Regions from separate parts of the Homo sapiens genome. Here region 1 is linked to region 2. The links come from fine-mapping of genetic effects on gene expression. Tissue or cell type: whole blood. Region 2 holds a variant in brackets; the other region holds the start of a gene. All regions are shown on one strand. Distances are from middle to middle.

Evidence for each region. PIP is the estimated chance that this variant, and not a neighbour inherited with it, causes the effect.
Region 1: it holds the start of STK10, and the variant in region 2 is fine-mapped to the expression of STK10 in whole blood (TOPMed, PIP 0.99).

What each region holds. Positions count from the first base shown.
Region 1 is chr5:172,184,625-172,192,802 of GRCh38, forward strand. STK10 (serine/threonine kinase 10) reads right to left here and starts at 3,600. Exons shown (of 19, transcript NM_005990.4): 1 at 3,263-3,600. The coding sequence starts at 3,418. RefSeq lists enhancers at 333-382, 1,423-1,472, 1,743-1,792, 2,453-2,532, 3,585-4,360 and silencers at 2,993-3,072, 3,203-3,252, 3,553-3,912.
Region 2 is chr5:172,063,689-172,071,866 of GRCh38, forward strand. It overlaps STK10 (serine/threonine kinase 10), which reads right to left. Exons shown (of 19, transcript NM_005990.4): 13 at 1,032-1,124. Among named protein-coding and RNA genes, the nearest start is that of FBXW11, 61 kb to the left of the region's middle. RefSeq lists an enhancer at 3,081-3,130. The variant A/C (reference allele first, on the strand shown) is at 3,486.

The DNA.
Region 1 (8,178 bases), 120 kb after region 2:
CTTTGAGAATTAAAGTCACTTTTTGTTTTTATTGTTGTTGTTTTTGAGACAGAGTCTCCCTCTGTCCCCCAGACTCGAGTGCAGCGGCATGATCTCAGCCCACAGCAACCTCCGCCTCACGGGTTCAAGCAATTCTCCTGCCTCAGCCTCCCGAGTAGCTGGGATTATAGGGCACGCGCCACCACACCCGGCTAATTTTTTTATTTTTTTATTTTTAGTAGAGGTGGGGTTTCACCATGTTGCCCCAGCTGGTCTCAAACTCCTAACCTCAAGTGATCCACCCGCCTCGGCCTCCTGAAGTGCTAGGATTACAGGCGTGAGCCACAGCACCTGGCCCTGGAGTCACTTTTTTAAAAACTGACTTTCCACGTGCTTTGGAGAACCAAGAGGAGACAGTATCGATTGTGGATCGGATGAGTTCCTTTGTATGAAACTTTCAGAGTAGCAGGGGAGTCTTAAGGGACTAAAGCAGGAGGAAACACAACTGAAAATGACAAGGGGAAATCTTACCAGCATGAAAGCAAAGTTCTGCGTTTAAGTTTAAAGGAAGATGAACCCTGTGAAGCCAGGACACACTGCGGGGAAGGGGACAAGAATGCAATTGAAAGCCCCTAACGGAGAAAAAAAAAAGCCCATATGTTTGTTTTGTTTTGTTTTGTTTTTGAGACAGAGTCTCGCTCTGTCGCCAGGCTGGAGTGCAGTGGCGCTATCTCAGCTCACTGCACCCTCCACCTCCCTGGTTCAAACGTTTCTCTTGCCTCAGCCTCCTGAGACGCTGGGATTACGGGCATGCATCACCATGCCCGGCTAATTTCTGTATTTTTAGTAGAGACAGGGTTTCACCATGTTGGCCAGTATGGTCTGAATTTCCTGACCTCATGATCTGCCTGCTTCAGCCTCCCAAAGTGCTAGGATTACAGGCGTGAGCCACCACGCCCGGCCCAAAAAACCCATATGTTTAGCATACGCTAAAAACACCAACTGAACCTTCTGGAGAAAGTGGGTCCTGTGGTGAGCTGACCACAGGGGTCCAGCTGCCCTCACAGTAGTCAGAGCACAGCTGCAGGAGCAGGCTCTGTCTAAGGCAGTCAAGGACACTGGCAGTGTCCAGAGACAGTTGCAAGGCTGAGGATCGTTCTCTGGTGCCACCAGGAAGAAGATGCAGCTCTGAGGAGAGTAAAGAAAAGACGTGCTGAGGACAGGGTGAGCTGGCTGCCCTCAAATATGGGCAAGGCCCTCAGGCAAAGGAGGACAGCAAGTCGGGGCAGTCCAAAAGCACTGCCTCTCGGATCACAAGACCTCTCCCTACCCCATAACAGGAAGTGTGGGCTCAGAGGGGAGGTGGCAAGGAAACAAAACAGGCACCAGGCCAGGCACAGTGGCTCACGCCTGTAATCCCAACACTTTGGGAGGCCGAGGTGGGTGGATCAACTGAGGTCAGGAGTTCGAGACCAGCTTAGACAACATGGTGAAACCCCGTCTCTACTAAAAAAACAAAAATTAGCCAGGCATGGTGGTGTGTGCCTGCAATCCCAGCTACTTGGGAGGCTGAGGTAGGAGAATTGCTTGAACCCAGGAAGTGGAGGTTGCAGTGAGGGCCGAGATCAAACCACCGCACTCCAGCTTGGGCAATAGAGTGAGACTCCGTCTCACAAAAAATAAAAATAAAAAAAGACACTGAGTGGGCCTGGTTGGTCTCAAAATTGCCACCGCTCCAGGTCAGGCAGGGTGGCTCACCGCTGTAATCCCAACACTTTGGGAGGCTGAAACGAGCTGATTTCATGAGCTCAGGAGTTCATGACAAGCCTGGGCTACGTGGCGAAACCCCAAGTCTACAAAAAATACAAAAATTAGCCGGGCTGTGGTGTGCACCTGTAGACCTAGCTACTCCGAAGGCTGAGGCAGGAGAATTGCTTGAGCCCAGGAGGCAGAGGTTGCAGTGAGCCGAGATCGGGCCACTGCACTCCAGACTGAGCAACAGAGGGAAACCCTGTCTCAAAAAAAAGAAAAGAAAAAAGAAAAAACGCCACCACTCCAAGCCTCTAGGGCAGTACTTCTCAAACCTATTTGCTTAGGAATCACCTGGGATCTTATTAAAACGTAGACTCTAATTCAGCAGGTCGGGGCTGGGCATGAGATTGTTCACTTCTGACAAGCTCCCAAATGATGCTATTATAACACCGGTCATCTAGGAACTACTTCGGTAACTAGGCGATAGACCACTTCCAAGTCAGAGGAGAAGGCCTGGAGAAGCCTTCTCTGTGGTCCAGCCTCATAGAACGGCAATCCTAGGGTCAGAGTGCCCTACAAGCTACAGGAGCCCCAAGGAGGAGGATAGTGGCTTAGAAGAGAGGTGCTCTCCTGGAGGTATACACCAATTTAACAAGTGGGCGTCTCCCAGTAAAAATTTTCTTAGGGGAAAGGGGGGAGTCAAGCTGTAGGTGTTGGCTCCCTAAAACAACTCACCACCTCAGAATTAGCTCCCAGGAGCAGAAACCAACGTCCTGCTGCCACACTTCTCTAGACTCAATCAGCTCTGCCCCACCCACTCCACAAAAGCTCTCTGCCGCGTCTTCCTCTAGGGGAGAGGTGACTGCAGGCTGGGAGACTCCCCAGCTGTGACTCAGACCGACGGAATCAAATCTGTTCCCCCAGGCTCAGCATTCACCAGATCCTGACCTCCCCCTCTGACCAGCCCCAACCCACCTTTCCAAGCCCCACCTCTCAGTCCATGGGCCACCCCTCGCCCACCCCACTTCCCTGTCTCTGGCTCATCTTCAGATGTGTCCCTAGCTCCCAACCCGTCCAAGCGCAGCCGAGTTTCTCGGTCCACATCGCCTCGATATTCCCACAGCATCTGTGGTCTCTCTTAAAAAAAAAAGTGTGCCCGTATCGCCGTTTTACGGAACGTCCCTGGAAGGTCCCTCGAGTGGCCCTCTCGGATGCTGAGGTCCTGTCAACGCCCCTTTGTCTCCCCGTGCGGCGCCGAGCGCAGTGCAGGACACACAGGAAGTGCTCCGAAACAGGGCTAGGGTGGGGGCGGCAACCGTGCCCGGAGGGGGCGCCCAGAGCGCAGGGACTCGGCCGGGCCGAGTGATGTTCCCCCCAAAAAACAAGAGTCATCGGGATGAGGGCCAGGGACCCCGAATTCAGCGCCGGGCAGCCCTCGGAGCCGGAGCCAGGCTGGCCGGGTCCGGCTCAGGCATCCCTTCCTTCCGGAGCCCCTCGACGCGCGTCCGGCCACCCACCTCAGCGCCCTCACCTTGTAAACCTTGCCGAAGGCGCCGTCGCCCAGCTCGCCCACGATCTCCCACACCTCGTTGGGGTCCAGGTCGCGGCGGACGTGCTCATATTCGCGGGACTTTCTCTTCTCGAAGGTAGACAGGCGCAGGATGCGGCGGAAATTGGCAAAAGCCATGGCCGGGGGCGCGGTGGCGCCGGCTCGGGCTCGGGCTCGGGCTCGGGCTGTGGCTTCGGCGGCCGCGAGGAGAAGGAGGAGGAGTTGGAGGACGCCGCGTCTCTCGGGGTTCTCCCCAGACCCGCCTTTCCCCGCAGCCCGACCTCGGTCAAGTGTGCCCTGGGCAGCGCCGCGCCGGGAGCACCCGGAACCGCGCAGGCGGCGGCGTGCCCGCCCCCGCCCCCGCCCTGTCAGGTCCCCAGGGCCGCCTCCCTTGTGCCGGCCTCGCAGCTCCTGCCCGGCCCAGCCCTGCCTGCGAGAGCCTCGGACCCGTTCCAGGGGACCGTCCCCGCGCCCGCCCACCGGCCCGGCTCCACCCGCCGCTCCCCGGCAGAGCCCCGGGACCCCCTAATTGGCTGCGGGCGCTCCCCGGCTCCGCCCGTCGCCGCAGGGCACTCTGGAAACTGTAGTCCCCCCACACCACGCTCCGCGAGCCGCGGGCTGGGCTTTGGGGAAGCTTCGGGGACCGCTCGGTGGGACCGCTCATGGACTCAGGAGCCCGCCCGCCGCGCCGCGTGGCTCCCAAAACTTTTATGGGAGCAAGCGGGACGGCGACTTGGCATTTCGCGAGAGCCCACGGATCGTTGTCAGCGCCCAGAAGGTGAACCTGCACTCGTTCATTTAATCCTCCCGCAGCTATTCCGCTAGGCTGCCCTCGCCCCCACTTTTCCGATGGGGACGCCGGCAGGCGAGGGCACTCGCCCCAGGCACACACGCTGGCTGCCCGTCTGCTGCGGGTTCCTCGGCGCGGTGCTGCCTCCTAGTGTGCGACGGGCAACGCCGGTGCAGCCGCGGCCAGTCCCTGCAGGGCCCGGCTTCCCGGCGCGGTCCTTTCCAGGGGCTCCCCGTCCACGATCCACAAACCTGCCAGGATTAGAGGGCTGGGAGAAAGAGCTCCTTTGGCACTGATTTCTCTTATGTTTCCTGATGGGTTTGCGGATGTATTTGCATATTAAATAAAAACTTTATTCTAATTTTTAATTTCCTAGTTTCAAAAAAGATGAGCGCACTACATACAGATCAAACTAAAGTCTTCTTTGAGCACCTTCATTCTCGATCCTGGCTACTTGAGTCACTTCACTGCTACTGTTGCCTGTTTGTCCTATAGACGGTTATAACATGCTTTTACCTGAATCTAAGGAGAGTGCTGGGGGTGGGGGGGGGGGGCGGGCAGTCTGCAAGGGTTATTATTTGGACCGTGTCATAAACAAGTTGAGTCTTCGCAAATGTCACAGTTCAATAGCTCCAACCCCAGAGAACGGCTGTGTTGAGGTGTTTTCGCCCCTTCCTCGGTGCTTTGTTCGAAAACATCCTTTGAACAGTGTGCAAACACCAAGCATGGTTTTCCACTGGGAAAGCCAGCTCAAGAAGCCTGCGATGCTGGTAGTGGTCGGCGCAGAGGGTGTCCTGGTTGCTAAGCCGTTCGGAATGTTTCCACAGCTGCAGGAGTGCCTGGAATTGTAGAGGGTCTTTAAAAGAAGGAAACGCCGCTCGTCGCTGACCGTTCTCATTGAGTCAGGCGCTGTCTGAACCTCCCAAAACATGCTGAAAGGCAGGTCTTTCATTTGTTTCAGACCATTTGGCCAACTGTACGAAGCGGGTGGGGAGACCAAGAGGGTTGCTTCCATACTAGGAGATGAAGGCTCTGACTCCACGAAAGCTGTAGGCCTGGAGGGCTCTGACCAGCTCTGAGAGCTCCAGAAAAGCAAGCAAGCGAGAGAAAGAGAGAGAGAAAGGAAAGAGAGAAAGAGAGAAAGAAAGAAAGAGAAAGGGAAAGGAAAGGAAGAAAGAGAGAAAGGAAAGAGAGAAAGAGAGAAAGAAAGAAAGAGAAAGGGAAAGGAAAGGAAGAAAGAGAGAAAGAAAAAGGAAAGGAAGAGAAGGAGAGAGAAAGAGGGAGGGAGGGAGGGAAGGAAGGAAGGGAGGGAGGGAGGAAGGAAGGGAAAGAAAAACGGAGAGGTTCATTCATTCAATAACACTAAGTCAAAGAAGCCAGACACAAAAGGCCCTGTGTTCTATAAATTTCCATTTATATGAAATGTCTGGAAAAGGCAAATCCATACAGACAGAAAGTAGATTAATGGTTGCCTGGAGCTGGGTGTGAAATGGGAATTAACTGTACATGAACAATAAACAGTCTAATTGGGGTGATGAAAATGTCCTAAAACTGCACAATGGTGACAATTTCATAATTTGGTAAATTTGCCAAAAATAATTGAATTTTAAACTTTCATTTTTGTAAATGGATGAATTTTATGTGTAAATTATACCTCAATAGCATTGTAAGAAATACATTGAGGTTCAATAGAATCAAAGCTACTTCTTTGAAATAACTAATAGACAAGACTAGTCAAAGAAAAAGAAAAAAAGGGTCGGGCACGGTGGCTCACACCTGTAATCCCAGCATTTTGGGAGGCCAAGCTGGGTGGATCACCTGAGGTTAGGAGTTCAAGACCAGCCTGGCCAACATGGCAAAACCCCAGCTCTACGAAAAATACAAAACTTAGCCGGGCGGGGTGGTGCACGCCTGTAACCCAAGCTACTTGGGAGGCTGAGGCAGAAGAATCACTTGAACCCAGAAGATGGAGGTTGCAGTGAGCCGAGATCGTACCATTGCACTCCATCTAGCCTGAGCAACAGAGCAAGACTCCGTCTCAAAAAAAAAAAGAAAAGAAAAAAAAAAAATTGGTGCAAGAAAGAAATATTCACTGGAAGAAATAAAAAATGAAAAGAGAACATCAGATTAGATACTGTAGAAATTTTGATAATCATAAAGTGATATTTTAGACAAATTTATGTGAATAAATGTTTTAATTTACATAAAATGGGTAATTATTGAGAAGAAAATATAAATGATAGGTAAAAGATAATTTCAATAAGAAATAAAAACCTAAATAAACTAGTAACCAATAAAGAAATCAAATCAAGAATCAGGCCGGGCACAGTGGCTCATGCCTGTAATCCCAGCACGTTGGGAGGCTGAGGCGGGTGAATCACCTGAGGTCAGGAGTTCGAGACCAGCCTGGGCAACATGGTGAAACTCTGTCTCTACTAAAAATACAAAAATTAGTCGGGTGTGGTGGTGCGTGCCTGTGGTCCCAACTACTCATGAGACTCAGGCACAAGAATCCCTTCAACCTAGGAGACGGAGGTTGCAGTGAGCCGAGATCACACCACTGCACTCGAGCCTGGGCAACACAGTGAGACTCTGTCTCTAAACAAAAACAAACAAACAAAAACCCAAAAAACAACAACCACAAAAATCAAGAATCAAAAGCTTGTTCTTGGTGAAAGACATCAGTCTGTGTGGTTTTACAAATAATTTCTTTCTTTATATAAATTATTTTAAAAGATAGAAAATGAAGGAAATCTGCCAATTTATTTTATAAGATGAGTTTTACTATTACTAGATAAGGACAGTAAAAGAAAATTGTAAGCCAGGCACAGTGGCTTACACCTGTAATTCCAGCACTTTGGGAGGCTGAGGTGGGAGGATCACTTGAGCCCAGGAGTTCCATACCAGCCAGAGCTATAAAGTGAGACCCTGTTTCTACAAAAAGTCAAAAAATTAGCCAGGCGTGGTGGTGCACACCAGTGGTCCCAGCTACTCAGGAGGTTGAGGCAGGAGGATTCCTTGAGCCCAGGAGGCCGAGGCTGCAGTGAACAGTGATCTCACCGCTGCACCAGCCTGGTCTCCAGTGAGACCCTGTCTTAAAAAGGAAGGGAAGGAGAGGAAAGAGAGAGAGAGAAAGAAAATTGTAGACTAATTTCATTTCATTTTTTTTTTTTTTTTTTTTTGACAGAGAGAGTCTTGCTGTGTCGCCAGGCTGGAGTGCAATGGTGTGATCTCACCTCACTGCAACCTCCACCTCCCAGATTCAAGCGATTCTCCCGCTTCAGCCTCCCAAGTAGCTGGGACTACAGGAACGTGCCACCACGCCCGGCTAATTTTTGTATTTTTAGTGGAGATGAGGTTTCACCATGTTGGCCAGGATGGTCTCAATCTCTTGACCTCGTGATCCGCCCGCCTCAGCCTCCCAAAGTACTGGGATTACATGTGTGAGCCATCACGCCCGGCCTAATTTCAGTTCTTAAAAAGACAGGGAAAATACAAATGCTAGCAAGATCAAACCAGAGGTGAATAAAAATATCGTAACCACAAAAGGTTTATCCAGGAATAAAAGAATGGTTCTACATCAGAAAATCTACTGTAATAGCACTGCATTGGCAGAGTAAAGGAGAAAAATCACATAGTCTTAATAGTCACAGAAAAAGCATTTTATAGTATTCTTAGGTTGGATTCCCTTAGAGACTGACCCTGAGGCAAGGATTTGAGTGTAAGTGGTTTATTTGGGAGTGAGTAGGGAGTAGAAAATTAAGACAGAGGAGGGGCTGGGCACCATGGCTCACACCTGTAATCCCAACACTTTGGAAGGCTGTGGTGGGAGGATAGCTTGAGGCCAGGAGTTCAAGACCAGCCTTGGCAATGTAGCAAGATCCTATCTCTACAAAAAATACAACGTGGTAGCACATGGGCATAGTCCCAGCTATGAGGAGGTGGAGGTGGGAGGATAGCTTGAGCCTGGGATTCAAGGCTGCAGTGAGGTATGACCATACCACTGCACTCCAGCCTAGGAGACAGAGTGAGATCCTGTCTCAAAAAAAAAAAAAAGAAAAAAGAAAAAAAAAATTAATGTCAGGGCACAGTGGCTCATACCCGTACT
Region 2 (8,178 bases):
GGAGAGAACACAAGCTTGAGGCCTCGACCCCCTCCCTGAATGTGAACTCAGCAATGTTACCTCTCTCAGCCTTTGTTTCCTCTTCTGCGAATGGGAAAATGAACAGCTCCTACCATAGTAAGCTATGAATGCTGAAGCAGGTAATATACAAAGCATTTCTAAATATGGACTCAAAAATTCTTTGCTTTGGGGGCTGAGGAAGCAGAACACACAAAGACCCCCTCGTGGGGGAAAATAGGAGCATTCCGGCAAAGGATGAAAAGAAGGCTGGGGAGGCCGGCCAGGGCACAGCAAAGAGGCGGCGCTTATCTTAGGGACAATGTGGGAGCCACTGAAGGGTTTTAAGGCACAGGGCTGTGGGGGGAAGGGTGCTATTATCAGACTTGGAATTCACATTGATCACACGCAGGCAGGAGAGAAGAAACTGCAGGGGAAAAACAGCTACAGGAAGCCTCGCTGGGAGGCCACTGGACAGTGGCTGGGGGATCATGGAGATGGTGACGAGTTCATAGATCCAGAGACAGGAGATAAGAAATATACATACCATGCTTCTGGAGGTGACGAAGGACTGGAGGGAAAGGAGGCGTCAGGAATGATGGGCCAGAAAGGAAGGAAAATGGCACCCCCTCAGAGCATAACAGGACCAGGTCTGGGACATCACAAGTTTGATGTCCTTCAGACTTAAAAGATGCCAAGTGGGCAGGGGAATATACTGGGTTGGTCAAGGAGATGTGACTTACAAATAAATAACCCTAAAACAAGGTAGGAGGTGCTAAGGGTTTGGGAGGTGGTCAATGTAAAGTGTTGGGGTATCCAGAGATGGAAGAGCTTACTTCCAGATGGAGGCAGGGCAATCGAGGAAGGCTGCATGGAGGAGGGGATAATGGGGCCATGAAGGATGAGGCCAGATTTAGGTATTCAGAACGGGGTATTTGAGGGGCAGGGATTGGGCAAAGGCAGAGAGGGGGCCTGGTCACCATTCCAGGTCTCGCACCAGCCCCTGCGCTCCCCAGCTGAGGCCAGGGACTCACAAGAAGCTGCTTTTTCTGCGTGTGCTCCTCCATCTTCTGCTTCATGCTTTCCTTCCGCTGCTGTCGGGGGAGCTTCTCCACCTCGTTCTTCACCTGCAGCAGAGACAGCAGAGAGTAGCTGGGTCAGGGTCCTCTCCATGCTTCCTACAGTATAATCTTCAACGCAGAACCCCCGGGCCAGAGAAACCAAAGAAGAGGCTCAGCTTTGCAGCGGCCAGCACCCTACGCGGCTCCCCACCAAGCCCCTCTGAGCAGGTGCTCCACACTGGCCTACTCCTGCCTGCCGCTGGTTTCAGCTTCCAACTCCCCCAGAGTGGGCAGGTGCTGTTTTCAGCAGCTTGGTATCCACCCCCCTCTTCTGGTAACAGCACCTCAGTTTCCTGCAGGGAAGTGTTTCTCAACCTTTTTAAAAAATTACAGTCCCTACAGAAGTTCTTTTAGACATTTTTCCCTAATCCCTCTCCCCCCATGAAATACTAGTCCAACAGACAATATCGTCAATCTGACAAACCATTGTCATATTTCAGTTATTTTGCTTCCTTTAGGGTAACACTAGCCGGGCTGAAAATGCACTTTTTTTTTTTTTTTTTTTTGAGATGGAATCAAGCAATTCTCCTGCCTAAGCCTTCCAAGTAGCTGGCATTACAAGTGTGCACCACCACACCTGGCTAATTTTTGTATTTTTAGTAGAGATGGGGTTTCACCATGTTGGCCAGGCTGGTCTCAAACTCCTGACCTCAAGTGATCTGCCTGCCTGGGCCTCCCAAAGTGCAGGGATTACAGGCATGTGCCACCGCGCCTGGCCGAGAATGCATACTTTAGTATCCCCCTTGTCAGCCCCTGAGGTCCAGGTGAACTGACATCCCTACCCCCGCTGGCCCTGGGCTGAGCATCTGATCCAGGCTGGCCAAGCAGCATATTCCATGCCCTTAGCCTCAGGAACTGATTCAGAGATAAGCACGTGACCCTCACTGGTCCAGTGTGAGCTTTGGGACGTTTGCTGGAACTACTGAAGAAAAGCTACCTGCTGTCCTCTGGGGTTGTTAAACTGGAGGGATGAAGGCCAAGGTGAGTCACCTTGTCAGCCCCTGGAGGGGACTGCCTGAGATGAACTCAGCACAGGGAAGCAATGTCCAGAGATGAGAAGAAGAATCCCTGGCAACACTCCTGCCCTCCTGGTCAGACGCCAGCAAGTGTTCTTTCCTTCTTAAGCCAGCTGGGATTGGGTTTCTGTCTTTTATAACAGGAGGGAGAAGAGATCCATGACACTTCTCTCTAAGGACCTTAGAGTTCCTCAGACAGTTCCTTCCCAAGAAACCCACACCTTCACAGGTGCCTAATAACCCAAAACCTGCATTGACAGAGGGCTCTTAAGAGCATCTGATGGGGGGAAAGGCCCGCCTGTGATCAAAAAGAGAGCATTCCAGGGAGTTCTGGCATGGTGAGGTAAGCCAAGACAGGCTGTGTCTCCTGATAATTACAGTGAAAACTCTGCATCAAATATGAAAGCAGCTACTTGAGGACTCTGAAAACCAAACAAAAGCAGGTGGCACGAAGGGGAGTCAAAACTTGCAGACAAGACTGGTACAGGGGATAAGTTTCCTATTTTTTTTTTCACCCTTTTGCTCTCCTGGCTTTGCACCAATTCCAGACCTGCCCAGTAGTGCAGTAGAAAAGCTGGCTAAAACTCTGTAAGAAACCTTGTGTTTCTGGCCAGAGAACCAGGAAAAGAGGCCTGTGCAGTCCAGTGAGTATGGGATGAATCCCAAAGAGAAGGGCACAGAAGGCCAGGCGGAGTGGCTCACGCCTGTAATCCCAGCACTTTGGGAGGCCGAGAAAGGTGGATCACTTGAGGTCAGGAGTTCAAGACCAGCCTTGGGCAACATGGTGAAACCCTGTCTCTACTAAAAATACAAAAATCAGCCGGGTGTGGTGGCACATGCCAGTTATCCCAGCTCCTTGGGAAGGAGGCATGAGAATCACTTGAACTCAGGCGGCGTAGGTTGCAGTGAGCCGAGATCATACCATTGAACTTCCAGCCTGAGGGACAGAGCGAGACTCCGTCTCAAAAACAAAGAGAAGAGCGCAGGAAAAGGGAAATTCCTAACTGTGTGTGTGAACACAGAGATTCACCCCTGAGCTGAGTATGAGTGAGACAGGTGCCAAGCAGTATAGCAAAAAACAAAAAAAGCAAAGACCCAACTAAACTAACACTGAAACCACTACCCACAGAAGATCAGACAGAACCTGTGGTCTGCAGGGTTTCCTGTTAAACAAAAAACATCTACATTCTTCAAAAGATTATAATACGGACCCACAGTCTACAGAACATAACACTGAAATGTCAGGGATAGCCAGGCACGGTGGCTCACACCTGTAATCCCAGCACTTTGGGAGGCTGGGTGGATCACCTGAGCTCAGGAGTTCGAGACCAACCTGGGCAACATGGCAAAA[A/C]CCCGTCTCTACAGAAAATATTAATACAAAAAACTAGCTGGGTGTGGTGCCAGTGCACCTGTAGTCTCAGCTACTCAGGAGGCTGAAGTGGGAGGATCACTTTAGCCCAGGAGGTTGAGGCTGCAGTGAGCTGTGACTGCACCACTGCACTCCATCCTGGGCAACAGAGCAAGACCCTGTCTCTAAATAAATAAATAGAATAAATAAATAAATAAATAAATAAATAAATAAATAAATAGAATAAAATGCCAAGGAAACAATAAAAAATTACTCTACATACAAAGAATCAGGAAATAGAACCAATTTTCAAAGAAAAAGGCAATCAATAGATGTCAGCTCCGGGATGACACAGATGTTGGGACTGGCAGAAAGAAACTTTAAAGCAGCTATTATAACTGTACTCCATGAGGTAAAGCCCTTTAATATTTCAAGTATGGAAAGATGAAAGTTCACAGCCCAGAAAAACTATTTTTTAAAAAATTAGAAAATTTAAAACTAAACAATACAATGTCTGAAATTAAAATAAAACAATAGTGGAATGGTGATCACAGAGGAGGGTCATTCATTTGAAGACTGATTAATAAAGATTATATAATATGAATGATAGAGAGAAAAAAAGATGAAAAAGAGGAAGGTTTCAGGAACTTATGGGAAAATTATCAAAAGCTCAATGAAACCCAAACAGGTTAAATTAAAAGAAAACCACCCTCATACATATCATAATAAAACTTGAAAACCAAACACTAAAAAAATTCAGGAGAGTAGTTAAGAGAAATGTGACATATTAACACAGGAAAATAATGACTCCAGTGACCATGGATTCCCCAACAGACACTAGGGAGGCCAAAAGCCACCGGAGTATCATCCTTAAAGTGCTGAAAGAAGGGCCGGGCGCGGTGGCTCACGCCTGTAATCCCAGCACTTGGGGAGGCTAAGGCGGGTGGATCACGAGGTCAGGAATTCAAGACAAGCCTGGCCAAGATGGTGAAACCCTGTCTCTACTAAAAATACAAAAAAATTAGCTGGGTATGGTGACAGGCGCCTGTAATCCCAGCTACTCAGGAGGCTGAAGCAGAGAACTGCTTGAACCCGGGAGGCACAGGTTGCAGTGAGCCGAGATCACACCACTGCACTCCAGTCTGGGCGACAGAGCGAGACTCTGTCTCAAAAAAAAAAAGTGCTGAGATAGGTATGTCTAGTGAAACTATCCTTCAGAAATGAAAGTAAAATAAAGACATTTTCAGATGAAGGAAAGTAGGAAACTTTGTGGTCAGGAAGAAAGGCTACATTGGAAGTTCTTCAGGTTGAAAAGAAGTGAGCTGAGAAGAAAACTTGTATCTTCAGTAAAAAAGAAAGAGTGACAGAAATGGTAAATATCTGGATAAACATAATCAACACTTTTTCCCTTAAGATCTTTAAAATCTCAATGACCATTTAAAGCAAAAGTTGTCACATTGTCTGGTATGGTTTTTAATATATGTAGATATAATACATGTGATAGGCCAGGTGTGGTGGCTCACACCTGTAATGCCAGCACTTTGGGAGGCTGAGGTGGGCGGATTGCTTGAGGCCAGGCAAGACCAGCCTGGCCAACATGGTGAAACCCTGTCTCTAGGCATGAGAACTGCTTGAACCCAGGAGGCAGAGGTTGCAGTGAGCCAAGATCATACCATTGCACTTCAGCCTGGGCGACAGAGCAAGACTCTGCCTCAAAAAAAAAAAACAAAACCAAAAACGTGACAATTATAACAAAATTGAGAAAGTATCAAGAAATTTACATGGTTGTAAAGGTACATTTTACTTAAAGAATTACAATATCAACTCTAAATAGATGCTGAGATAGGTATGTATATTATAATGCCCCAGAGCAACCATTAAACACAAACACACACACACACATAAAATATAAACTAATTCATGAATTAAAAAATAATACTAAAAATATTCAAATACTTCAAAAGGAGGTAGAAAAACAGGGAAGAGAGGAACAAAAACCAAAGGAGACAAAACAGGTAATAATTTAATTAAATATAAATGCCATAAACACCTCTACTAAAAAACAAAGATTTTCAGATGGGATTAAAAAAAATGAAAGCACAACTATATGCTGTCAACAAGAAACCCATGTTAAATATAAAGATTTAGACAGGTTAAATTGAAAGGATGGGAAAAGATACTGTATGCAAACACTTATCAAAAGAAAGTAGGATTGGCTATTTATTAGACAAGGTAGACTTCAGAACAAGGAATATTATCAGGAATAATGATGGGCATTATATAATTATAAAAGGAAGACTCAGTTCACTAAGAAAATATGACTATTTTAGTCTTAGCTAAAGTCTAGGAGGCTGAGGAGGATCACTTGAGCCCAGGAGTTTGAGGGCACTCTGGGCAACATAGTTAGACTTCCATTGCAAAGAAAATAAACAAATAAATAAATAAAAGAAAATGTGACTATTTAAAATAACAAAATAATTTCAAAAATGTGAAACAAAAGCTGACAGAACTGAATGAGAAATAGATAAATCCACAATTACAGTTGGAGATGTTAACATTCCTTTCTCAGTAGCCAGTAGAACAAGTGGTCAGAAAATCAGTAAGAATAGAGAAGACCTGAACAATACTATCAATTAAGTTGACCTACTTGACATTTATAGAATACTCCACTCAACAACAGCAGAATACACATCCTTTTCAAGTGCACACGGAACACTCAGCAACACAGACCACATCCCGGACCATAAAACAAGCCATAATACATTTTTAAAAACTGAAATCTTAAAAAATATATGGGCCGGGCGTGGTGGCTCATGCCTGTAATCCCAGCACTTTGGGAGGCTGAGGCATGTGGATCACCTGAGGTCAAGAGTTCAAGACCAGCCTGGCCAACATGGTGAAACCCTGTCTCTACTAAAAATACAAAAATTAGCTGGGTGTGGTGGCATGTGCCTGTAATCCCAGCTACTTGGGGGGCTGAGGCAGGAGAATCACTTGAACCCGGGAGGCAGAGGTTGCAGTGAGCCGAGATCATGCCATTGCACTCCAGCCTGGGCGACAAGAGCAAAATTCCACCTCAAAAAAATATATATCTATATATCTATATATCTATATATATATGTTATTTGATTTGATCATAATGAAATCAAACTAAAAAACAATAAGAGAAAGATATGAGAGCCCCAAAACATTTTAAAATTAAACAACAAGCTTTTAAATAACCTGGGTCAAAGAGGAAGTTGCAAAGGAAATTAAAAAGTAATTGGTATTGAATAAAAATGAAAATACAACATATAAAGATTTGTGGAATGAAGCTAAAACAGTGCTCCATTTATAGCATTAAGTGAAATTTATAGCATTAAGTGCTTAAAGAATAGTCTCAAATCAATGTTCTAAATGAGCTTCTACATTAAGAAACCATAAAAAGAAGAGCAATTTAAACCCAAGACTAATATAACAGCAGAAATCAATAACATTGAAAAGAGAAAAATCAATGAAACCAAAAGCTGGTTCTTTGATAAGGTCAATAAAATTAATAATTAGACTGACAGGGAAGGAGGAGGAGAGGAGGAGGAGAAGGAGGATGAGAAGATGACAATACAAAATACCAATATGAGGGATGAAAGAAAGAACATCACTATAGATGCTACAGGCATTAAAAGGATAGTCAGGAAATATTTAATGCCAATAAATTTGAGTATTAAAATGAAATCTACAAATTCCTTGAAAGACAGAAGCTACTAAAGTTTACTTAAGAAGAAACAGGCCAGGGGCGGTGGTGTATCCCAGCACTTTGGGAGGCTGAGGCGGGCAGATCACCTGAAATCAGAAGTTTAAGACCAGCCTGGCTAACATGGTGAGAGCCCATGTCTACTAAAAATACAAAAACATTAGCCGGGTGTGGTGGCACGCACCTGTAATCCCAGCTACTCAGGAGGCTGAGCAGGAGAATCGCTTGAACCTGGGAGGCAGAGGTTGCAGTGAGCTGAGATTGCACCACTGCTCTCCAGCCTGGGCGACAGAGTGAGACGCTCTCTATCTCAAAAAAAAAAAAAAAAAAAAAAAAAAAAAGAAATAGGTATTTCATTGGAAGGCCATGTAACAATGAAAAGTTTAAAAAAAAAAAAAAGAAGAAGAAATAGATAACTAAAACTGAGGCAGGATAGGTAGCAAAAAAAAAAAAAAAAAAAAAATGACCAGGTTCTCTGGACACAGCAACTATGGTGACCATACAGTCAACACCATAAGCCTCAGCATTCTCATTGTAATTGAGCTCATTCAAGCACAGCTATCTTCAGTAGGGGATTTTCCCTGTAGGGAGCAAGCACATTTTGATTTTACCTGTCCTCCGACTGACTCTTTGTTCATTGTAATAGTAAAAAACACATCCCTGGGTAGAGATGTAAGATGCTAATGAGACAGTGACAAATGAACAAGCATGTACAGCTACTACAGCTGTGCACCCAGAGGACCACCCAGAACATGCTTCCTGGCAACGCCTCTTCCCACCTACTTAGGAACCATCATGTAAGGCTCCCTTTAAAAGAGTCTCCCTAGTGCCAGTCTTTGCTGTCTCGTCCTTACAAGCAGCCCACTCTGAATTCTCTCTCTCTCAGGGTGTACTGTCTATTCTATACCTAACTTTCAAAATATTATTTTCCTTTTGCAATAAATCACTCTATGCTGCATCTCCTTT